3 separate regions of the Homo sapiens genome follow, and all the other regions are linked to region 2. Evidence: fine-mapped expression QTL. A gene starts in region 2. Each other region holds a variant in brackets. All regions are shown on one strand. Distances are between the middles of the regions. Region 1 overlaps PRPF6 (pre-mRNA processing factor 6). Region 2 holds the start of C20orf204 (chromosome 20 open reading frame 204). Region 3 holds the start of TCEA2 (transcription elongation factor A2).

Evidence for each region. PIP is the estimated chance that this variant, and not a neighbour inherited with it, causes the effect.
Region 1: its variant is fine-mapped to the expression of C20orf204 in aorta (GTEx, PIP above 0.99).
Region 3: its variant is fine-mapped to the expression of C20orf204 in whole blood (TOPMed, PIP above 0.99).

The regions. Positions count from the first base shown.
Region 1 is chr20:63,983,639-63,991,810 of GRCh38, forward strand. PRPF6 (pre-mRNA processing factor 6) reads left to right here. Exons shown (of 21, transcript NM_012469.4): 3 at 1,269-1,387. Among named protein-coding and RNA genes, the nearest start is that of PRPF6, 6.6 kb to the left of the region's middle. The variant G/A (reference allele first, on the strand shown) is at 3,102.
Region 2 is chr20:64,031,995-64,040,166 of GRCh38, forward strand. C20orf204 (chromosome 20 open reading frame 204) reads left to right here and starts at 4,188. Exons shown (of 4, transcript NM_001387010.1): 1 at 4,188-4,332; 2 at 5,933-6,208; 3 at 6,302-6,454; 4 at 6,628-7,007. The coding sequence starts at 4,330. The coding sequence ends at 6,765. PRPF6 (pre-mRNA processing factor 6) reads left to right here. Exons shown (of 21, transcript NM_012469.4): 20 at 1-50; 21 at 847-1,106. The coding sequence ends at 999. RefSeq lists enhancers at 3,351-3,580, 4,468-5,061, 4,531-4,630, 5,062-5,655 and silencers at 6,301-6,370, 6,471-6,790, 6,981-7,260.
Region 3 is chr20:64,055,657-64,063,817 of GRCh38, forward strand. It overlaps TCEA2 (transcription elongation factor A2), which reads left to right and starts at 7,542. Exons shown (of 10, transcript NM_003195.6): 1 at 7,542-7,728. The coding sequence starts at 7,657. RefSeq lists enhancers at 44-733, 1,424-2,113, 2,114-2,801, 6,923-7,052, 7,063-7,112 and 1 more and a silencer at 7,443-7,802. The variant C/T (reference allele first, on the strand shown) is at 3,262.

The sequences.
Region 1 (8,172 bases), 48 kb before region 2:
CCTATTGGCCAGTCTTTTTTTTTTTTTTTTTTTGAGACGGACTTTCGCTCTTGTTGGCCAGGCTGGAGTGCAGTGGTGTGATCTCAGCTCACTGTGACCTCTGCCTCCCCATTTCAAGCGATTCTCCTGCCTCAGTCTCCAAGTAACTGGGATTACAGGCATGCGCCACCATGCCTGGCTAATTTTGTATTTTTAGTAGAGACAGGGTTTCTCCATGTTGGTCAGGCTGGTCTCGAACTCCTGACTTCAGGTTGTCCGCACGCTTCGGCTTCCCAAAGTGTTGGGATTACAGGCGTGAGCCACTGCGCCTGGCTGCCAGTCTTTAATGATAAAAACTTAAAGTGGAATTGGTGATAGTATTTGCTTTTTTTAGCTTTAGTGATTGCCCTCTAAACAGACATCTAAAGAAAAACTTCAGCTGACTGAATACCGATTAACTGTCTTCTAACAGATGACATTTTTCCTCTGAGGAAAATTTTTAAAAATAATTTTAGTTTTGAGGCCAGGTGCGGTAGCTCACACCTATAATCCTGGCACTTTTGGAGGCCGAGGTGGGCGGATCATGAGGCCAGGATATCGAGACCATCCTGTTTAACATGGTGAAACCCCGTCTCTACTAAAACTACACAAAAATTAGCCGGGCATGGTGGCATGTGCCTGTAGTCCCAGCTACTCGGGAGGCTGAGGCAGAAGAATGCTGTGAACCCGGGAGGCGGAGGTTGCGGTGAGCCAAGATTGCGCCACTGCACTCCAGCCTTGGCGAGAGTGCGAGACTCTGTCTCAGAAAAAAAAAAAAAATTAGTTTTGAAATAATTTTAAATTTGCAGGAATTTGCAAAAATAGTGCCCCCCCAAAAAAAAGTTTCTGCATGTCTTTCACCAAGCTTCTCCCGATGTTACATGACCTTAGTGCAGTTATTGAAACGAAGGAGTTAACATTGACACAGTACTATTAACTAATTTGTCAGTCGTATTTGCATTTCATGTTTTTCCATGAATGTCCGCTTTCTGGCTTAGGCTTAGTCCAGGATCCCCCATTGCATTTCGTCATGTCTCCTTGGTCCCTTCCAATTGGGGGTCTCCTCTGTCTTCCATGCCCTTGACGCTTGAAGAGTAGTCACCAGTTATATGGTAGACTGTCCCTTGATTTGGCTTCGTTGGCTGAAGAAAATAATTTAGCAAGTATTTCACAAGTAGAGATCTCCGTTTCGCTGGTGGGGATGGTGTTGAAGGAAAAGCTGACCTCTACACGTGTTGTTTGCTTCTCAGTTTAATGGCTATGCTGGGAGCCTCTTCTCAAGTGGACCCTACGAGAAAGATGATGAGGAAGCAGATGCTATCTATGCAGCCCTGGATAAAAGGATGGATGAAAGAAGAAAAGAAAGACGGTAAAAGAAATTGTTGCCTTTCACAATATTTATCCAAGTTTAAAAAAAAGTTTTGTGGCCAGGCGCAGTGGCTCACGTGTGTAATCCTAGCACTTTGAGAGGCTGAGGTAGGACGATAGCTAGAGCCCAGGGGTTTGAGACCAGTGTGGGCAACGTAGGGAGACTTAATCTCTACAAATAATTTAAAAATTAGCCAGATGGTACACACCTGTAGTCCCAGCTACTTGGGTGGCTGAGGTGGAAGGACCGTTTAAGCCCAGGAGGTAGAAACTGCAGTGAGCCATGATCATTCCAGCCTGGTTGGCATAGTGAGACCCTGTCTCAAAAAAAAAAAAAAGTTTTGTTTTGAATTGTTTTATATTTGGAGAAAAGTTGCAATAGAGTATGTGTGTCTGCTTAGCTTTTAGGCCACCTGAGGGTCTTGGTCTGTCGTAGCCATGCCTGGATAAGCACTGGGCTGTTACAGAACAGCCTTAGGGCCTGGGGGCTGCAGTGGAGAGCTTAAGAACTCTTAAGTTTTTCCAGAAATCAGCAGAATTTTGTGGATTACTTTTACGATACATCAGGGTTACCATCTTTGAAATGAAAAGGGCCTACTGACTTGATTATTATATGTTGAGTAATTTGCAAATGAATTAAAGATGTTAAATGACACATACAAGCTACCAAGATTGAACCATGAAGAAATCCCAAACCTGAACAGACCAATAAAAGGTAATGAGATCAAAGCTGTAACAGAAAGTGTCCTAGCAGAGAACATCTCAGGATCTGATTGCTTCATTGCTGAATTTTACCAAATATTTGAAGAAGAACTAATACCAATTCTACTCAGACTATTCTGAAAAATAGAGGAGGGAATACTTCCAAACTTATTCTACAGAACCAGTATTACCCTGATACCAAAACCAGACAAAGACACACTGAAAAAAGAAAATGTTAGGTCAGTATCCCTGATGAACACTGATGCAGAAATCAGCAGAATACTAGCAAACCATATTCAACAACACATTAGAAAGATGGTTCATCGGCTGGGCGCAGTGGATCACGCCTGTAATTCTAGCACTTTGGGAGGCCGAGGTGGGCGGATGATGGGTCATCTGAGGTCAGGAGTTCAAGACCAGTCTGGCCAACCTAGTGAAACCCAGTCTCTACTAAAAATACAAAAATTAGCCGGGCATGGTGGGTGGTGTACGCCTATAATCCCAGCTACTTGGGAGGCTGAGGCAAGAGAATCGCTTGAACTCGGGAGGTGGAGGTTGCAGTGAGCCGAGGTCACAACACTGCACTCTAGCCTGGGAGACAAGAGCAAGACTCCATCTCAAAAAAAAAAAAAAAAAAAGATCGTTCATCATGACCAAGTGGCATTTTGCCCAGGGGATACAAGTGCAAGGGTGGTTCAACATATGCAAATTAATCAGTGTTATACATCATATCAACAGAATGAAGGACAAAAACCATATGATCTTTTTTTTTTTTTTTTTGAGACGGAGTCTCGCTCTGTTGCCCAGGCTGGAGTGCAGTGGCGCAATCTCAGCTCACTGCAACCTCCACCTCCTGGGTTCAAGTGATTCTCCTGCCTCAGCCTCCTGAGTAGCTGGGACTACAGTTGCCCGCCACCACGCCTGGCTAATTTTTTGTATTTTTAGTAGAGACGGGATTTCACTGTGTTAGCCAGGATGGTCTTGATCTCCTGACCTCATGATCCACCTGCCTC[G/A]GCCTCCCAAAGTGCTGGGATTACAGGCGTGAGCCACTGCGCCCGGCCTAATCATTTTAATTGATTCTGAAAATGCATTTGATAAGATTCAACATTCCTTGATGATAAAAACTCTCAAAAAACTGCATATAGAAGAAACATACCTCAGGCTGGGTGTGGTGGCTCACGTCTGTAATCCCAGCACTTTGGGAGGCTGAGGCGGGAGGACTGCTTGATCTCAGGAGTTTGAGACCAGCCTAGGCAAGAGGGTAATACCTTTTCTTTACAAAAAAATACAAAAATTAGCCAGGCTTCGTGGCACACACCTGTAGTCCTAGCTACTCAGGAGGCTGAGATGGGAGAATTACTTGAGCCCAGGAGGCAGAGGTTGCAGTGAGCTGAGATCATACCACCACACTTCAGCCTGGGCCACAGAGCGAGACCCTGTCTCAAAAAAAAAAAAAAAAAAAAGGGGGGGGGAGCATAACACAATAAAAGCTATATACAGCTGGATGGGGTGGTTCACGCCTGTAATCACAGCCCTTTGGGAGGCCCAGGCAGGCAGATCATTTGAGGTCAGGAGTTTGAGACCATCCTGACCAACATGGTAAAACCCTGTCTCTACTAAAAATCCAAAGATTAGTTGGGTGTGGTGGCTCAGGCCTATAATTTCAGCTACTCAGGAGGTGGAGGTTACAGTGAGCTGAGATTGTGCCACTGCACTCCAGCCTGGGCAACACAATGAGACTGTGTCGCAAAGAAAAAAAAAAGCCACATATGGTAGGCCCACAGCTCGTATCATACTGAATGGGGAAAAACTGGAACGCAACAAGGATGCCCACTTTCACCACTGTGATTCAACATTGTACTGGAAGTCCTAGCTAGAGCAGTCGGACCAGAGAAATAAATAAAAGGGCATCCAGATTGGAAAAGAAGAAGTTAAATTATCCTTGTTTGCAGATGATATGATCTTATATTTAGAAAACCCTAAAGACTCTACCAAAACACTATTGGAACTGACAAATTGATTAAAGTTGCAGGCTATGCCCCCAGGTGTGGTGGCTCACACCTGTAATCCCAGCACTTTGGGAGGCTGAGGGTGGGTGGATCACCTGAGGTCAGGAGTTTGAGACCAGCCTGGCCAACAAAGAGAAACCCTGTCACTATTAAGAATACAAAAATGGCCGGGCACGGTGGCTCACGCCTGTAATCCCAGCACTTTGGGAGGCCGAGGCAGGTGGATGACTGGAGGTCAGGAGTTCGAGACCAGCCTGACCAACGTGGTGAAACCCTGTCTCTACTAAAAAAATTACAAAAGTTGCCAGGCGCTGGGACTCACGCCTGTAATCCCAGCACCTTGGGAGAGTGAGGTGGGTGGATCACTTGAGGTCAGGAGTTTGAGACCAGGCTGACCAACATAGTGAAACCCTGTCTCTACTAAAAATACAAAAATTAGCTGGGTGTAGTGGCACACGTCTGTAATCCCAGCTACTCAGGAGGCTGAGGCAAGAGAATTGCTTGAACCTAGGAGGCAAATGTTGTAGTGAGCTGAGATTGCACCACTGCACTCCAGCCTGAGTGACGGGGCAAGACTCTGTCTCAAAAAAAAAAAAAACCAAAAAACAAAAATTAGCCGGGTGTGGGGGTGCACGCCTGTAGTCCCAGCTAGTTGGGAGGCTGAGGCAGGAGAATCGCTTGAACCCAGGAGGTCGAGGTTGCAGTGAGCTGAGATTGCACCACTGCACTCCAGCCTGGGTAACAGAGTGAGACTCCATCTTAAAATAAAAGAAAATATCCATACTACCCAAAGTAATTTACAGATTCAATGCAATCCGTATCAAAATACTGGGGACATTATTAACAGATAGTGAAAAAATAGCCAGGTGCAGTGGCTCATGCCTGTAATCCCAACACTTTGGGAGGCTGAGGCAGGTGGATCACTTGAGGTCAGCAGTTCGAGACCAGCCTGGCTAAACCCCATCTCTACTAAAAATACAAAAATTAGTTGGGCATGGTGACAGGTGCCTGTAATCCCAGCTACTTGGGAGGCTGAGGCAGGAGAATCACTTGAACCTGGAAGGCAGAGGTTGCAGTCAGCTGAGATCGTGCCATTGCACTCCGGCCTGGGCAACAGAGTGAGACTCCGTCTCAAAAAAAAAAAAAGAAAAAGAAAAAATAATTCTAAAATGTACATGGAGCCAAAAAAGACCCAGAATAGGCAAAGCTATCCTGAGCAAAAGGAACAAAACTGGGGGAACACTTGACTTCAAATTATACTACAGAGCTGTAGTAACAAAAACAGCATAGTACTGGCAGAAAAACAGACACATAGACCAATGGAACAGAATGGACCCAGAAACAAATAGGTACCTCTACAGTGAACTCATTCTTGACAAATGTACCAGGAATATTTATTGGGGAAAAGACAATCTCTTCAATAAACGGTGCTGGGAAAACTGGATATCTATATACAGAAGAATGAAACTAGACCCCTCTCTGTCACCACATACAAAAATCAAATTAAAAGACTTTAAGACCTCAAGCTGAAACTACTAGAAGAAAACATTGGAGAAACTCTACAGGACATTGGACTAGGCAAAGATTTCTTGAGTAATACCCCACAAGCACAGGCAACGAACGGAAGCCAGGTGTGGTGGCTCGCTCCCGTGAGCCAAGAGTGCGCTACTGCACTCCAGCCTGGGCCACAGAGACTGTCTCAAAAAGGAAAAAAATAAAAAGTTCTCATTATAGAATATTAGGAAAATAAGAGTAAGTATGGGTAAAAGCATAACATTTATTCATAAGTCTAGAAAGTAACAGTTAACATTTTGGCTCATTTCCTCTTTCTGTTGCTTTTTTTTATCTTGGCTCACTGCAACCTCTGCCTCCCGGGTTCAAGCAATTCTCCTGCCTCAGCCTCCCAAGTAGCTGGGATTACAGGTGCCTGCCACCACGCCTGGCTAGTTTTTGTATTTTAGTAGAGACGGGGTTTCACCATGTTGGCCAGGATGGTCTCAAACTCCTGGCCTTGTGCTCCATCCACCTCGGCCTCCCAAAGTGCTGGGATTACAGACGTGAGCCACTGCGCCCAGCTCTGTTGCTTTTTATACATGTAATCATAACTTCCTGTGATGTATGTAGAATGTTTTATTTTTTGAAGATAATTTTAGAATAGTAAAATATAGTTCTTCTGGAATTTTATTTATTTTTTATTTTTTTGAGTCTCCCAGGCTCAAGTGATTCTTCTGCCTCAGCCTCCCAAGTAGCCGGGATTATAGGCACGCGCCACCACACCTGGCTAATTTTTGTGTTTTTAGTAGAGACAGGGTTTTACCATGTTGGCCAGGCCGGTCTTGAACTCCTGACCCCAAGTGATCCACCCGCCTCAGCCTCCCAAAGTGTTGGAATTACAGGTATGAGCCACCGTGCCCAGTCTTGCCACACACTTTAAACAACCAGATCTTACGTGATGTAAACTTGCTGCCTCGAGGACAGCACCAGGCCATCAGGGGTCTGCCCTCAAGACTCAAGTGGCCTCCCACCAGGCCCCACCTCAAACATTGGGAATTATAATTCAGCATGAGATTTCATGGGGACACAGATGTAAACCATATCCTTTGGCCTCCCAGAGTGCTGGGATTACAGACATAAGTCAATGTGCCTGGCCTGGACATCTTTTTAGAAGCTCGTTATTAAATCATTGTGCATAAATTTTATACCTATAGTAATTAAACGTGAATGGCATTGCATTTCACTTTTTTTTTTTTTTGGATACAGGATCTTACTCTGTCACCCAGGGTGGAGCGCGGTGGCTTGATTATAGCTCCCTGTAACCTTCAATTCCTGGCTCAAGCGATTCTCCTGCTTCAGCCTCCCAGGTAGCTGGGATTACAAGCACGTGCTACCACACCCAGCTAATTTTTCTTTTTTCTTTTTTTTTTTTTGAGATGGAGTCTCACTCTATTGCCCAGGCTGGAGTGCAATGGCGCAACCTCGGCTTACTGCAACCTCCGCCTCCAGGGTTCAAGTGATTCTCCTGCCTCAGCCTCCCAAGTGGCTGGGATTACAGGCATGCACCGCCACGCCCGGCTGATTTTTGTAGAGATGGGTATTTTTAGTAGAGACGGGGTTTCACCAATGTTAGCCAGGCTGGTCTTGAACTCCTGCCCTTGTGATCTGCCTGCCTTGGCCTCCCAAGGTGCTGGGATTACAGGCTTGAGCCACCACGCCAGGCTCACACCCAGCTAATTTTTGTCTATGTTGCCCAGGCTGGTCTTGAACTCCTGGCCTCAAGTGATCCACCTGCCTCCCCTAACCTTGGCCTCCCAAAGTGCTAGGATTACAGGCATGAGTTACTACACTCAGCCCTACATTTTAAAAATTGATTGGAACCTCCAGGGTTAATGCATTTTAAAAAACATCAGGCTGGGTGCAGTGGCTTACATGTGTAATCCTAGTACCTTGGGAGGCCAAGGCAGGAGGACCACTTGAGTCTAGGAGTTCGAGACCAGCCTGGGCAACATGGTGAAACCCTGTCTCTACAAAAACAAAATTAAAATTAGCCAGTTGCACATGCCCGTAGTTCCAGCTACATTCCCAAGGCTGAGGCAGGAGCATCGCTTGAGCCTAGGAATTAGAGGCTACAGTGAGCTATGCTTATGCCACTGTGCTCCAGCCTGGGCAACAGACCAAGGCCGTGTCTCTAAAACAAAAACAAAACAAAAAACAGCAGGTGACACGGACCCATGAAGAAAGCCATTAAATTAAATGTTTTTAAAAAGTAGTGTACTTGGCCGAGCACGGTGGCTCACACCTATAATCCCAGCACTTTGGGAGGCCGAGGCGGGCAGATCATGAGGTCAGGAGATCGAGACCATCCTGGCCAACATGGTGAAACCCCGTCTCTACTAACAATACAAAAATTAGCTGGGTGTGGTGGTGCATGCCTGTAATCCCAGCTACTCAGGAGGCTGAGGCACGAGAATCACTTAAACCCAGGAGGCGGAGGTTGCAGTGAGCTGAGATCGCACCACTGCATTCCAGCCTGGTGACAGAGTGAGACTGTCTCAAAGAAAAAAAAAAAAGTAGTGTA
Region 2 (8,172 bases):
GGGATGCCTGGGCCTTCTTCTACAAGTTTGAGCTGCAGCATGGCACTGAGGTGAGGCCCCTCGACAGACCGCCGCTCAGTGCCTTCTGGGACTGTGGCGGGGAGTTCCGCCAGCCCTGGGGGCTCTAGGAGGTGGCCACGGCCAGCGTGACTCTGCCCGGGGTCGGGAGGATGGACCGGGTGTGTGGGGCACAGAATCCTCGACACCTCCCCACAAGGCAGTCTCTGCCTCCACATCCGTTTTCTGGTTATAGCCTCACAGCTCCACACCCTGGAATTGAGGCACCCTGTCCGTTAGGGTGGCCTGTCTGCTGGAGTATTTTAACGAGTTATTTGCTGGCTGGAGCCTGGGCTCACTTTAGGAATGGGAATGGAGTTGGCCTTTTTCTTGGGCCTGAGCCTGAGTGTGGCTTTCTAGGACAGCCTGGGCAGCAGCCCCTCTGCTCCCACCCGCCCCGCTAGAGCCAAGCGTTGTCTGAGCTGTGCTGGAGGCAGTCAGGCTGTCCTGGTCCTCCCTGGAAAGTGTTGCCAGCCCACGTGAACCCTAACTCCTTGTTTGGAGAAGGCAGACGTGAGCACTTGTGTGAGGCACAGACATGGGGAGCCTGGCTCAGTTCCTCATCTGTGGGCTGAGGCTGGTGGGGTCCATGCTCCTCAGGAGGTGGGGCTCCTTTGAGGAACACACCTGAAAGAGCCTTGCCTTCCGGTGCAGGGCCTGTGCCCTCTGGCCCGCCAGTTGGGGTTGGTGCTGCCAGGGCCAGGTCTGCAGGGGCCAGGCGAGAAGCAGGCGAGGTCCGGGGAGTAGCGTGGGAGGACCCCTGCCTGACGTGCCCTGTGGTCCCCCCAGGAGCAGCAGGAGGAGGTGAGGAAGCGCTGTGAGAGTGCAGAGCCTCGGCATGGGGAGCTGTGGTGCGCCGTGTCCAAGGACATCGCCAACTGGCAGAAGAAGATCGGGGACATCCTTAGGCTGGTGGCCGGCCGCATCAAGAACACCTTCTGATTGAGCGGTTGCCATGGCCGGTCTCCGTGGGGCAGGGTTGGGCCGCATGTGGAAGGGCTCTGAGCTGTGTCCTCCTTCATTAAAAGTTTTTATGTCTCGTGTCAGAACAGGCAGCCTGCTGGTTTTCTCTGGGGCCCTTCTCTGGCTCCTGCTTCTGCTGCCCCAGTCTGGCCTGTCCTGGCCTGTCCCATGCCGTCCTGGGGTGGCTGTGATCGCCCTTGCTTGGACAGAAGCCTCTTGCAGACAGCCGGTGTCTCACAGAGGAGGCACTGTGGAGGTGCCCGGGTTCCCCAAGACTGTGGAGAAGGTGGTAGGGGTGCAGATGTTCTGGCCAAAAGCCCTGTGAGGACAGCTGGAGACAGTGGGGACCAAGCTGCATGCAGGACGCAGGTGCTCGCAGGAGCCTGGCAGCCGCCTGCAAGGGTCTTGGTCAGGGGACAGCTGGGGCCTCCCTGGGGTCTGAGTGCAAACAGGAGAACCCAGCTCTGCGCAGGGCCTCTCCACACAGCCTCCCGGGCCCCTCAGGCATGTGCTGAGTGACAGTGTCACCAGTAAGAGGCGTTCTTTCTTTTGGAGGTGAGTTCATTTTTTTATTTTTGAGACAGTCTCGCTCTGTCGCCCAGGCTGGAGTGCAGTGGCACGATCTCGGCTCACTGCAACCTCTGCCTCCTGGGTTCAAGCAATTCTCCTGTCTCAGCCTCCCGAGTAGCTGGGACTACAGGCGCCCGCTGCCAAACTCCTGACCTCAGGTGATCCATCTGCCTCAGCTTCCCAAAGTGCTGGGATTACAGGCGTGAGCCACCGCACCCGGCCGTGAGTTTATCTTTGCTAATTTATCATTCGCAGTTTAACCCTAAAGCCCTTGTAATGGTTCTCATCTCCAGGTTGAACAGTGATGGTTCTCATCTCTAGGTTGAACGTTGATCACCCGAGAGACTTGGCTTCTCTTCAGCCTTAGCTGTGTAAGGATAAAGGACGTCCTCAGGCCTGGGATCATGTGTGTGCATTCAGTTGGGAGCCAGCTGGTTCTTGTGTAGGCCGGGGCTAGAGACATCTGGCTGGAGGTCATGGCTGGCCCAGAGGGTGTGGGTGGACAGTCGTTGAGGCCAGCGGGCGGGGAGGAGGGCGCTGTCATGTGGGCTGAGGAGGCTGCTGGAGAGCAGCTGTCCCTGGATGTTCCTTGTGAGAGGGGAGCCCTGGAGGGTCCCGGCCTGTCTTGTGGTACCGATGGCAGGGCCTGTGGTGGTGGTCAGTCACTGACCCACAGCTCTGCCCACCTGCACATGGGGGCCTGTGCTAGGCCTTGTGGTCTGCCTGCCCTGCTCCTGACGAGTGAGAATGGCTGGGGTGGGAGATCCCTGCCTGCACGTGGGGCGGTCCTGGTAGACCAGAATGTGGGTGTGGGTCCCCCTTCCCTGTGGTTCTGGGGACCTTGAGGACATGGTCAATCCCGGGCAAGGGACCTGCCACCCCTGTATGGGGTCAGGAACTGCTGGTTGGTCTCTGCTGGGCAGGCAACCTGGGGTCCAGCTCAAATCGTTGGAATGTGGAAGTCCTTCCTCTCGCCCCGTCCTGAGGAGCAGCTGCAGGAGCTTCATGAGTGTTTTCACTGGAACTTGTGGAGGAGTTTCCTTTGATCCCTCATGGAGAGACGGAAGCATGAGGGAGCCCTCAACATTTATTCTGAAGATGAAGAGAGTCCTGCAGCTTTTTGGAGTTTGTGAAGTCAGCCCGGCCCTGTACAGATGTGGAAACCGAGGCCCAGGAAGTTTGTGAGCCAGCCCGGCCCTGTACAGGTGTGGAAACCGAGGCCCAGGAAGTTTGTGAGCCAGCCCGGCCCTGTACAGATGTGGAAACCGAGGCCCAGGAAGTTTGTGAGCCAGCCTGGCCCTGTACAGATGTGGAAACCGAGGCGTAGGAAGGAAGCCCTTCTCTGACCTCAGAGCTGAAATGGCCAGTGCTGGGTGGGCATTGAGGGGTCACACAGAAAAGAATGTTTCAGGCCATGTTCAGGGGATACTTCCTGCAGGGCCCTTGGAAAGTTCCGGAGCGCTTACATTGTCCATGTGTGAGTGTCTCCTCTTTCTTGCCTGTGTGGGGTTTTCTCAAATGCTTTGAGTTGGCCAAACCACAGTTGTGCGCCACTTAACAGTGCGGATACATTCTGAGAAAAACCTCGTTAGGTGATGTCGTCTTGCAAACATTAAAGAGTGCATTTACACAAGGCTGGCAGGCACGGCCTCCTGCACCCCCAGGCTGTGTGCCCGGGTGCCAGAGCCTGGGGCTCCTGGGCTGCAGACCTGCACAGCCTGTCACAGCATTTAATCACATCCAAACACGGAAAAGGCAAAAACGTAAAGATGCAGTGTTACAATCCTAGGGGACTCCTGTCACCTGTGTGGTCTGTTCTTGACTATTGTGAGTCACTGACTTTTCCCCCTGGGAAACTACCTTAACTTGTCTTCAACTGAAATTTTTTCAGCCTGCAAAGATGAGTTGTGCCTCAGAGGTTGCTCGTGTTCTGAGGTGCCTCTTCACCACTGCCTGTCAGGCTGCTAACCAGAGTGCCCCAGACCACAGCAGAAGCGACAGCAGCCAAGGATCGGGGGAGCCCACCCTGCTCCTGGGTATCTTTACGGCAGGCAGCAGAGTAACAGCCTCAGACTTACCTCTTCAGCCAGAGACCCCTCAGCCCAGGAGGAGTGAGGCCGGGCCAGCAGCGGGGGCCCGGGAAGCCCCATGTCTTGGGACCTGCTGGGGCAGGGCCCCCTGGATGTCAGGCTGCAGGTCCGGCAGCTGGGGAGGGGATGAGGGCCTCCCACCAGCTCTGCCCATCAGCCAGATCCCTGGGAGAGGCAGCACTTGCTGGCCACAGAGTCGGCCCCAGTCTCACCTGGCTCCCCTCCCCCACCAGCTGGGCCCTGCACTGCCCCAGCCCACGCGGCGCCTCACCCCTCCTTGACAGAACAGTATCTCTGGGACGGACAAGTTAATCCAAGACCCACAGTAGCCCTGGATCCCCTGGGAGAGGTGGCTGCCCAGCTCCAGGGCCAGGTTAATTGAAGTGATAGGGAGTGGAGAGAGGGAGGGGGCAGGGCTGGGATTGCGTGGCCTTTCCTTCCCTCTCCTGCTCCCTCCCTCAGCTTGGAGGAGCCAACTTCAAAAGCCTCCGCCTGGCCTGCCCCTCTGCAGTCCTCCAGGCAGCCTGTCCAGGGAAGCGGTTGGCTGGTGTTGGACCTGGTGCGGCAGTGCACACCCTGCCCAAGGACCCCAGGATCATGTGCGTGGCCTGCTGGCGGGAGTGAGGGAGGGCAAGACCCTGAAAGGCCCATGGTGAGCAGCTGTGGGCCTCCTCTAGGGAGGGGGCTTACTTGGGTGGAGGGGCTGGGGGTACACACAGCTCAGGAGACACTGCTTGTTCCCCTGAGCCCCACCAGGAAATCTCCGGTTGGCTCTGGTCACTGCGTCCCTGTGGGTGGCACTGGGTGCATGTGCCCTGGCTTCTGGCAGTTGGGGGAGGGGGGCTCCTGGGTGCCGGGCAACCCTGTTCTAAGCTGGGCTGAGGCTTGAGCCTGGAAGTGGTACTAACAGGCCAGTTGGGACTCCCAGGGCAGCCAGTCTGCCCCACCTGGGTGGGACACAGCAGGTGCTGGACATCCTTGCAGCTCCAGCTGGCCTGCTCAGGAGTCAGGCTCTGGTTCTCGCTATGACCTCTGACCCAGAGCAGGCAGAGGGAATGACGTGGCAATTCTGAGCCCACCAAGTTGGCTGTGGCGTGTGTGGTTGGGGGGGTCAGGTTTCAGGAAGGGGCCACAGCAAGCCATCTGCTCTTCCAGCCATTGCTGCTTTGTGCTCTGAGCAGGAGCTGCCACCGCCCACCAGGCCCCCAGCTCTATGCAAGGGTTGGGGTGCTGCTTGTTCAGGCTCCCCTGACAGGGCTAGGAAGCCGAGTCGAGTCCTCTTATCTTGGTTGGGTTCGCATGATTAATTTCCAGCCCTAGATCTGCTGTCTGACTCCATCCTGGGGGCCCAGGGGAAGGGTTGGGGCTGGCCCCTTTTGGGTGGCTGGGAACCTGGGGGCCGTCAGCTGTCTCCTTGATGTTTGGGCTTTATCCCTGCGGGCGCAGGCCCTCCATTTTGGGTCGGGGGAGGCCTGTGGCACAGGCTGCCCGGAGGGATGGCGTGGGGCGGCTGGTACAGGCAGAGGGGCCTTTTGCGACTGTTGGTTGGGGCTGGATGTGGTGGCTCCTTCCTCCTCTATAGCTTCTGGGTGTCCCCCTAGCTTTCCCCTTCCAATAGGGTGTGGCTTGGAGCTCTGAGCCCCTGCCCCAGTTGGGTTGGGGGTACAAGGAGTCCCCAGTTCCCACGTCTCTGTGAGCTAACCCAGAGGGCGCCAGTATGGGAGGTGTGGAGTTGAATGGGCATGGCCATGAGTGAGACAGGCTGTACTGGGACAACTTCCTACTGTACCCCCAAGAGCCTGCAGACCAGCCCCACTAGAGCTGTACGGGGCTGGTGGGGGGCCCTGCTCTGTGCGGTCCTGAGGGTGCTCCACCCCTTGCTGGCCCCACTCCCACGTGGACCACAGAGCCAGGCTCTCCTGACTCTGGGCCTGCCCCCTCTATCTCCTGATGGGTTCTTCAGGACTCAGTGACATCGCCTCCCAGCCGACATCACTCACCCCTTTCACATCTTTGCAGGGAGCATAGAACTGTCTGGTTTGCAGACCTATCTCTTGTGTCTCCTGATTTATCCCGCCAGGCCTGTGCCTACAGCCTTTCTTGATTGGTGACACGTCCATTTCATTCGCTCAGAGATCCCGTGGGGTGGGGCAGGGGGTGGGGCTTCTACGGAAACAAAGTGCAGGTGGGCTGGCTGCTCCCTGTGCTGGGAACACCCCCCAGGCCTAACCCCAACCTGCTGTCTCCTCCAGGTACCCCCTAAGCCTGCACTCTGGGCGCTCCTGCTGGCGCTGCTGGGGACCGCGCCAAGCCGCGCCTATTCCCCGGCCTGCAGCGTCCCCGACGTGCTCCGCCACTATCGCGCCATCATCTTCGAGGATCTGCAGGCCGCCGTGAAGTGGGGCGGGGCGGGGGCCGAAAAGACCAGGCCAGGCTCCAGACACTTTCATTTCATACAGAAAAACCTGACTAGACCCGGGAGCTCGGGACGGCGGGGACGGCCTCGGGCCTCCTGTGGCGCCCAGAAGGTATGGAGGAGGCGCCCCTACCCAAGCTCGCCGGCCTGCTCCTCTCTCAGTTTCCCCCCACCCCCACCCCGCCTTCCTCCCTTCCCTCCCCAGGAGCACAGTATCCTCCTGTCCATCTCGTCCCTGGGTCGGACCCTGCGCGGGGCGGTGGCCGGGGGCCGCCGCGGGGCCCTGGAGAGAGCTGCTTGGACCGTGGCTGTGCGCACCGAGGCGGTGATGCGGCGCCACTGCAGGACGCTGCGCCAGGTGTGCGTCCCTGAGTGCACCCAGAGCCAGACCTCCCTTAACCCCCACAGGGCCGCCGCGCGTCCCGGGGCTCCACGGCCCTAGGCTGAAGTCGGGCTGGGTCGCGTCTCCCTTCCCGGGCCGGGCCGGGCGCGGGGGCCGTGCGCATTCGCTGACCGCCCTGTCCCCGACAGCGGAGCCGGCGGCCCAAGATGCGCCCTGCCCGGCGTCGCGGCGGCCGAAGGCAGCTCCTGCTGCGCGCCCTGGACGCCGTCGCCACCTGCTGGGAGAAGCTCTTCGCGCTGCGCGCCCCGGCCTCCAGGGACTCCTAGCGCGGCCCGTCCTGGCCCTGCGCGGGGAGGAGAACCAGCGGGGCCGCGGCAGAGCCTGGAGACGCGCCTCGTTCTGTAGACTTGTTGGTGACCTCGGCCCCTCGCTCGACGCAGCCCGCGCTCCCCGGAGGGCCCAGGACTTGGAGAAGGGAGCGCGCCTGGCCGCCGCTGGGTCACGGAGGAGGCCCGCCCTCCACGCGCCGAAGGCCTCAATAAACGGAGCTGGCGCTGCGGGTCCGGCACTCCCTTCGCCTGCCTCTCTGTGGGCCTAGGACCGCCCCGGGATCTGCGCCTCGGTGGCGGGGGGCGGTGGAGGGGGAATGCGGAGACCCGCACTTCCTGTGGCACCTGGACGGGGCGGAGCCGCCGCTCCCAGCCTCGGGCAGCAGAGGGCGGACGCGGGACGCTGGGCGCGCTCCGGCTCTGTCAGCGGCTCCCGGCTGGGCGGAGGGCAGAGCGGGGGACTCCTGGGGCCCCTAAAACGTCACGTATCCGTCCTGCTCCACTTTGGACCGGGGCCGGGGGTGGAAATTGAGGGGAGGGGAAGGCTGGACTTGGTGAATTCGGAGCAAAACAACCGGATAAAGGAAACGGGCCCGAAGGGAAGCGGGAGCTGCGGGCCTTGGCTGTGAGCTTGGCCAGGCTATTTCCTGCTGCCTCCGGAGGGGTGACCACGGCCTGGGCTCAGAGACTGCCCAGCCCCCTCTGCAGGACTGGCCAGGCTGGGGCCCGCTTTCTGGCCCCTGGAACCCTCCATTTGCTGGGGGACTGTCCCCTGGTTCCCCCATCTGATGCGCAGGTCTGGGAGTCTGTCACCCCCCTCCCCCAATCTCGGCCCATGGAGGAGCAGGGGAGGTAAAGTACCTGACACCTGTTACCCTCCCCTTCCCGGAAAGGCCGCGAGCAGGCTGTGCCTCTGGCATTCTGTGGGATCAGGGGCAGCAGCAGAAGAAAGAAGTAACCTCCCAAGCTGACCCTGACCCAGCCCCACACTCTGTGTTAATGTATTTAGTCTGTGCAACGGGAGCTACTGTCTCTGTTTTATAGATGGGGAAACTGAAGCACGAGGAGGCTGAGACTTGCCCCAAATCACAGCCAGCAATGTAAGAGCTGGCCTCAGACCCAGGCCCAGGGCATGGGATCTGCCACATGTCCCCTGCCTGGAGGCTGGGGGCCAAGCTTCCTGGACTTCAGAGCCTTGGATTCCCCTGCAGAGTTAGCACTTCTGACAGAGTCCCTGGCCATGCTCTGAGCACAAACACCTAGCAAGCATTCCCAGCCCTAGTTCTGCATTGCCTGCTCCGTGGGGGCCAGTGGGGGCAAGTGTGGGAGGGATGAGGGGGAGATGCAGGGTGCAGGAGCCCCAGCTGGAGCCAAAGCACTTGAGGGGGGTGCTTGGACTTATCC
Region 3 (8,161 bases), 24 kb after region 2:
GAGTGAGGTGGGACCTTGGGAGGTTCTGAGTGGAGTGTGATCTGCCTCAGCTCAGCTGCTACGTGAAGACGGGGCTGTGCGGGGCAGGAGGGACGGGCAGTCCCCTGCCAGAAGGCAGGGGGCTCTGCTTCTGCCGCGGCGGGAGCCTGGCCAAGGTTTGCTCTCAGACCCCATCTGGCTGCCCCAGGAGTCTCCCTGGTCTCTCTCTGGGAGGCCTGGGCCCCTGGGAGGTGCCGCCTCAGGGAACCCTGGTTTTGCTGCCCTGTGAGTCAGGTCTCTAGGCTTCACCCATAGCCCCGACCCCACGGCTGCCTGGGGCCTCTGGGGAAGGGGAGGGTGGAGTGGCCGCCAGGCTGGCGGGCTGGCAGGGCTGCATTTCTGGGAATTGTGTGGGGGAAGTGCATTGTTAGAGCAAGCCTGGAGCAGGCCGCCAGGGCCGCCACTGGCCTCTGGGGATGCCTCTTGCCTCCCCCAGCGTTGCTTCTGTGGGAGGGAGCTGGGACTGGGCCAAGGCTATGGGCTGGGCTGGGGACTTTCCGAGAGACGCTGCCCTGGGCAGGTGGCTCTTCCCATTCTACAGACTGGGCGACTGAGGTCCAGAGAGCCGGGTGCTGCAGTGGCATAGCCAGGAGCAGTGGGCCCAGTCCCCATCCCCTGCCCTCCTCTGCTGGCGCATGGGACAGGGGAGCACTTGCTGGACCTAAGCCCCGTCGCTGCCCTGCTGGTGGGGGCATCCAAGGGAGGCCTGGGTGGGGTCCACTGGGGTCACAGCTCGGCAGAGCCCCCAAGGTGGGCTGGAGGGTCTGATGGAAAGGGGCGCAGAGACGGCTCCTAGGTGCTTGGGCTGTGGGAGGGCTGCCCATGGGGTGGCAGGGGGTGGGGGCTCCTGGGGCTGCAGGATCCCCAGCCCCCGCTCTGTGGTTGCAGGAAGCAAGGGGGGCTCCGTGTGAGTTTGGCAGCGGGAGCCTTCCCACCACGGCGCTGCCTCAGCCAGAGGGGAAGCATGGATAGCGGCCACTGGGGTCATGGCCGGCTTTGGGCGGGCAGGGGGCAGGGGACACAAATAGAAAAATAAATGGCCTGAGTTTCCGACGTTTCCTGGACTCAGGATGGGGGAGGGGCAGGCCTTTGGGCCAAAGGTGCGGCTGGCCCTGTGGGGTGGACCAGGGGTTTCTCCCCAGACGCCTGTTGGGGCCAGGGCTGCCCCCTCAGACCTCCAAGGTGGGTCACATCTCCCCCTTAGAGCCCTCAGGACAGGGCCCCGTTGCCCACAGAGAATTCCTAAAGGCCTATCCATATGTCCCTGTCCATAAAGACGTCGAGTGTGGAGGACACCCTGGAGGAGGAGATGGAACCCTCCTGTTTGCTGGGGCTCGGCCCCCGGTGAGGCTGGCTGCAGGTGACCACAGAGACCTAGCCTGGTGTCGTGCGGCCGCTGGGTCCGTGAAGGGGAGTGAGGCACTCCTCACCCTGTGGCAGCTCCTAGTCAGGAGGCCTCTCCCCTCCACCTGCACGTCATGTGGCTGTGGCTCCCAGGACCAGCGCCTGGAGCGGGTGAGTGAACGTCCCTCTCCTCCGTGGGCACTGCCTCCGCTGTGAGCCACCCTTCAGGCTACGTGCATTTCCGCCTGTTCTCAGGGTTTAACCGAAACCGAACATTAACCGTAGCCCTAACGCGGCTGAGGGATCCAGGCCTTGCCTCTGGGCCGGGTGAGAGACAGACACTCGCCAACCAGTCCGCAGTGGCTCCCCGTGTGTGCGAGGCTCCCGCCTGCGTGTGTGCGTGTGCATGTGTGCCTGCGCACAGGGGAGGGAAAGTTCTTCAGCTGCCGAGGGCGGGAGTAGGGGCTGGAGCAGCACCCTGCGGCGAGGCCCCACAGGAGAATCGATGGTTCTGATGCTGTCAGCCTCTGGGTGCAAATTCTGAGGGCCCGGGAGCGTCTGGCGGCCCTGAGCAGCTTGCTGGGGAAGCTCCGTGGAGGAGGAAGTCCGGAGGTCGGTAAGCTCCAGGAGGGGTCTGCTGGGGGGCGAGAATGCTCTGAGCAAGGTCCCAGAAGTCCAGAGCTCCTGAGGGACCCGGGACCAGGGGCACTGGGGAGTTTCAGGGTTGGTCGCCGCCACAGCCCTCACAAACGAGGCCACTCTCTAGGACTGGCCACCTTCTCACCTCGGCCACTTCACAGTCCTGGGGGGCAGCTGTGGCTCTTGCTGGGAACCACCTGGACCTCCCTGGGGCTTGGGGGTGGGGTGGTGGTGAAGTGAGGCCCACCCGTCCGTGGCTCACTCCTGCCACCTAGAGGCCACTGTTCCTCACAGGCTCTGGGGCCAGTCACCTGCCTCTGCCCGGGGGCGGGACCATCCCACCGGATTGCAGGTTCCCTGATCACCAGGATGGGCCTACACCTCTCCGCCTGCAGTAGTTGCTTCCACGCAGGACTAGAGCATGTCAGGGTTCGGGGCTCCTGTCATAGCGGAGTGGCTGCGGCCCGCAGGTCAGAGGCACCCGACCTCTTCTGCTAACCCCCTTCCCTGCCTGTCCCGTCCGCTCCTTTCTCTCCATCACCTGCCCCTGCCATGAACCAGGCCACCAGTGACCCCATCCACACCTGTCCGACCAGGCTCCCCACGTGCCCTAATGCAGCCCCGTAGGCTGGGCCCACGGCTGACACCCCTTCCTGAGGGATCCCCGACCTGCCAGCCGTTGTCCTTAAGACGCCACAGCATCTTGACCTCCCCGTCTGCAGCCTCTGTGGGCCTCCACTGGGACCCACTGAGACATGTCAGGCTCCTCACGAGCTCTGTCTTGTGTGGCCATGCCCAGGGCCCCAGGACGTAGAAGACCACCTGGCATCTCATGGAGGAGGAAACAGGGCCCAGAGTGGGACCTCCACTCAGGCTCAGCAAGGGCCGAGTCCCAGTTCCTGGAGTCCTAGTTGAGGCCCCTCCTACACAGAGCACAAGGTGGAATTCACGGGGTCATAAAGGCAGCCAGTTCTACCAACACACAGTTATGCAAATATTTTCTTAAAGTGTGATATCAAAACCCAAGTGCTTCTTTACCAATCTGCTGAACAAGATGTGACTCACTGAACAGCCTCTGCAGTCCCAGCAGCAGCGAGTGTGGGGGTGCGAGGCAGTTCCCATCTGTGCCGGGTCAGCCACGGGCCCAGCTGACCAGATTTGGTTCATGGCCTCGTTCATAACTGAACGAACGACACCTTTCTGCTAGAGGTCGGTATAAAGGAGATGATGGGCCGGGCA[C/T]GGTGGCTCACACCTGTAATCCCAGCACTTTGGGAGGCCGAGGCGGGTGGATCACCTGAGGTCAGGAGTTTGAGACTAGCCTCACCAATATGATGTAACCTCGTCTCTACTAAAAATACAAACATATTAGCCGGGTGTGGTGGCGCATGCCTGTAATCCCAGCTACTTGGGAGGCTGAGACAAGAGAATTGCTTGAACCTGGGATGCGGAGGTTGCAGTGAGCCAAGATCGTGCCACTGCACTCCAGCCTGGGCAACAAGAGTGAAACTCTGTCTCAAAAAAAAAAAAAAAAAAAAAAGGAGATGATGGTTTCTTCCCACCAGTTTATTTTCTGTCAGGGGTTTGGTCTCTGGGTCTCTGACCCCCTGGATTGTTGAGACGCCTCGCACTGTTCCCTCCCATCTTGCCCGACCGCCCCCCACCAGCTCCCAGGCCCAGTATGTCTCTGTCCCACCCCATCGTCTCTATAGGCCCTGTCCTGCAGTGGGTTCTGTCCCTCCCTGCAGCTTGGTAAGGTTGTTGAGGCTTCAATACACACTCCAGACCACATCCCTCTCCCTCCCAACTCTGGGACACTCTCTGCACCTCTGAAAAGAAACTCCCAGCCCTTCTTGTGCCTCTCCCTTCCTCTGGGCACCCCTTGTTCCTTATCCATCCTGGCTGGCCTGTGGCCTGTACTTCTGATCTGCACACAGGTATCACAGAGGACAGAGACCCCAGGGCCCCAGCCCCTGGTGGGGGCGGGGAGTGCAAGGGGGCAGTCGTCTTTGTTCTCGACCAGCTCCCAGCTCCCTAGGTAATGCTTTAAGAGTTACCGTGCTAGGGGATCTTTGTGGCTGAAAACATTCAGATGAACCAGATATTTAAAAGCATCCCTCATGCAAAGTCCCTCCACTGGTTGGGCCGGCCTGGGGAGGGTCAAGGCTGGGTCTCTAGTCTGGTTTTCCGGGGGCGTCTGTGTGCACTCCTTCCCCAGAACCTTGCGCTTGTCCATCCCAGGGAGAAATCAGGTGGGGAGCGGCCTCACTGCTGGCTCCTTGATAGTGACTTGCTCCAGAGGTCCGTGCTGATACCCCAGACCCCGCCCCACCAACACTTCAACTGGGACTGCGGCGTATGCACAACTGCACAGCCTCCTCTGGCAGCTCCTTGATGCTTCTGGGACGTTGACCCTCTCTCCTTTGCACCTCCACTCTTAGGAACTTGCAGCTCTCTGGGGTTAGTTCTCCTCTGTGCTGTCTGGGCTGCACCTCCTGCCCAGGAGGGGCCTCTCTGTGCTGCAGCCCTTACCAGCATCTCAGGATCTGCAGTCCTGATACTTGGAGGTCTCCCCCCCACCCCCAGCTTGAGGGCTGGCTTCCTTTCGGTGGTCTTCAAATCAACTCACACTCGGCCGTTGGAGAAGCCTATGTGTCTGGCCAGGCAGGCTCCATGGATGTGGCCAGTGTCTTTGTGGACGGTGGGAACCAGCTTTGAAACCCTGGCCGCCCGGACCTCCGAAGCCAAACTTTCTGGGGTTCCTGCACAAGGGCAGTTCCAGTGTGGCTTCTACAGGACCCTGACCAGCTCCTTGGTCTGGCTGTCAGCCATTGAGACAGTGGTTGAAGGCTGGGTGGCTCTAGCCTCCCCTCGTGCCTCTGATGAGGCTGGACCCTTCAAGTCTTCATATATGCCCAAACCATGGGATTCTGACCACGAGGACTTGCTTGGATGGTCTAGGCTGGAAGCTATGTCCCCAGCTCACTGTGAGGGGCAGAATCAGTCAGTATGGAAACCGTGTTCATCTATTAATAATAATAATAATATAATATCGCGGGGCCTCTGTCTTAGAAAGGCTTTGCTCCTCACAAGGAATTCTATGCTTTTTCCCTATGATTGAGCTTTTTTTTTTTGCGACGAGTCTCACTCTGTTGCCAGGCTGGAGTGCAGTGGCATGATCTCGGCTCACTGCCAGCTCCGCCTCCCGGATTCAAGCGATTCTCCTGCCTCAGCCTCCTGAGTAGTTGGGACTACAGGCGCATGCCGCCATGCCCGGCTAATTTTTTTTTGTTTTTTTGTATTTTAGTAGAGACGGGGTTTCACCCTGTTGCCCAGGCTGGTCTCAAACTCCTGAGCTCAGGCAGTCCACCTCCCAAAGTGCTAGGATTACAAGCATGAGCCACCGCGCCCAGCCTGAGTCTTTTTTTTTTTTTTTTTTTTTTTGGAGACAGTCTCACTCTGTCACCCAGGCTGGAGTGCAGTGGCACAATCTGGGCTCACTGCAACCTCCGCCTCCTGGGTTCAAGTGATTCTCCTGCCTCAGCCTCACAAGTAGCTGGGATTACAGGCATGTGCCACCACGCCCGGCTAATTTTTTTTTTGTTGTTGTTTGTTTTTGAGATGGAGTCTTGCTCTGTTGCCCAGGCTGGAGTGCAGTGGCATGATCGCCGCTCACTGCAAGCTCCGCCTCCTGGGTTCATGCCATTCTTCTGCCTCAGCCTGCGGAGTAGCTGGGACTACAGGCGTCCGCCACCACGCCCGGCTAATTTTTTGTATTTTTAGTAGAGATGGGGTTTCACCGTGTTAGCCAGTATGGTCTCGATCTCCTGACCTCGTGATCCGTCTGCCTTGGCCTCCCAAAGTGCTGGGATTACAGGCATGAGCCACCATGCCCGGTCTAATTTTTGTATTTCTAGCAGAGACAGGGTTTCACCATGTTGGCCAGGCTGGTCTGGAACTCCTGACCTCAGATAATCCGCCCACCTCAGCCTCCCAAAGTGGTGGGATTACAGGGGTGAGCTACTGTGCCCAACCAAGATGAGTCTCTCTCTCTCTTTTTTTTTCTTTTGAGACGGAGTCTCGCTGTTGTTGGCCAGGGCTGGAGTGCAATGGTGCTATCTTGGCTCACTGCAACCTCCGCCTTCCGGGTTCCAGCAATTCTCCTGCCTTAGCCTCCCAAGTAGCTGAGATTACAGGTGCCCGGCACCACACCTGGCTAGTTTTTGTATTCTTTGTAGAGACGGGGTTTCACCATATTGGCCAGGCTGGTCTCGAACTCCTGACCTCAGGTGATCCACCCGCCTGGGCCTCCCAAAGCGCTGGGATTACAGGCATGAGCCACTATTGCCCGGCTAAGATGAGTCTCTTAACTGACCATATTTTCCTTTTCATTTTGGCTGCGGGGAAGCTCAGTTATATGTGATTAGTGCCACAGACAGCCCAAGAAATGCTCAGCCCATTCCACCTGCCACCTGGCCTCATAGTTCGTTGGCCTGAACTTGAATGACTACAGGCTCCTTGATCCACACCCTCCCCCAGGATTGTGCCCTCTCCAGGAAACCACCCAGCATCTGCATTACTGGGGAGCTGCCAGGCAGTGGTGGGGATGCTGGCCCTGCACCTGTCCCCGTCCTCAACCCTCCCTAGGCCTGGGCCATCTCTCTGGCTGCCTGCAGTCTGGCCCTACCTAGGGACCTCCAACAACAATGTCAATGAACACTAATTGTCATGCTCCATCCCCTCTCTGTTCTCAGGCATGTGATGTGAATCAGCTGACATCATCTTGACGGGAGCCCTGTGAGGCGGACACTTAACTCCAGTTTCACAGGTGGGGAGACTGAGACACAGTGGTCAACGTGCAGAGCCCAGAATCTGCTCCCTGGTAGCTGACTTTGCAGGCAGGGGCCTTGCCCACGCAGCCTCGGCAGAGGCCCCCGCACTTCGCGAACCCCAGCAATGGCCCCTTCCAGACGCCACGTCCAGCTACCGCGCGCTCACACCTGCAGGGCCCCACAAGAGGCCTCCCAGTGTGCGCGGGCCTCTTGAAGAAGTAACTCTACTCAGAAGCCCGAATGACCCAAACTGGGCTCTGGGAGGCTGGGGACGGCCTTCTAGGCCAAGTGGGGCGCGCGCAGGGCTCAGCGGGGCCCAAGAGAAGGGCTGAGGGCACTGGGTCCTGAGCCACCCACCGAAGGACGCCGCGGGACAGCAAGGCCCGAAGCAGGAGGAGAGAAGGGAGCAGATTCCTGGGCCTCCTGGGGCCCGGTCGCTCCGGGATGTCTGAGCTCTGGGAGGGGCGTGCCCGGGGCGCCTCCCTCGCGGGGTATTGTGGGATCACGAGTCACTGGCGACGGTGGGTCAGGACTACACTTCCCAGGAGGCTGTGCGCGCCGCGTGGCGCCTGGGAGTTGTGGTCCAGAGCGCGGGCGCGGCGGGCGCGGCAGGCGGGCGCGTGGACTACGCATCCTAGGATGCCGCGCGCGGCCGCGGGGCCGAGGGTTTGAACCGGGGGTCTGTCGTCCGCGGCGGGGCTGCGTCGGCTGCGGCGGGTGTGGGAGGTGGCGACGGCCGGGGCCGGGGTCCTGCCCGGCTGCGGAGGCGGGCGCGACGGGCGCGGGGGTCGCTGCTCCTGAGGCGATGATGGGCAAGGAAGAGGAGATTGCGCGGATCGCCCGGAGGCTGGACAAGATGGTGACCAAGAAGAGCGCGGTGAGGGGCGCGGGCCGCCAGGACCCCGGGAACCCCGCCCCGCCGAGACCCCGTCGAGCCCGCCGACCCCCGTTAGGGCCGGAAGACGACCTGAGGGGCAGGACGAGACCCCTCCCCGGCAGAGACTAACCGGGACGCAGGGGAGACCCCCACCCGTGGCCGAGACCCCTGCCCCGGGCCAGCCCTGCCGTTCACTCCCGCAACCCCGGCAGAGGCCGCGATCAGGCCTGGACCTTGTCCCGGGAGAGCCACCCGCTCTGGACTCAGACCCCTCCCTCGCCCGCAGTCACAGGCTCCGCACCCTTCCCTGTCCCTTAACTCCAGACCCCCAGCCTGGCCCGTCGACTCCTTCCTTGGCCCTGTCCCGCCTCTCGGAGCCCCCGGGGTGTTCGGGCCTCCTCTGCGGGCCGCGCCAGCCCCTTGCCTTCCTCCA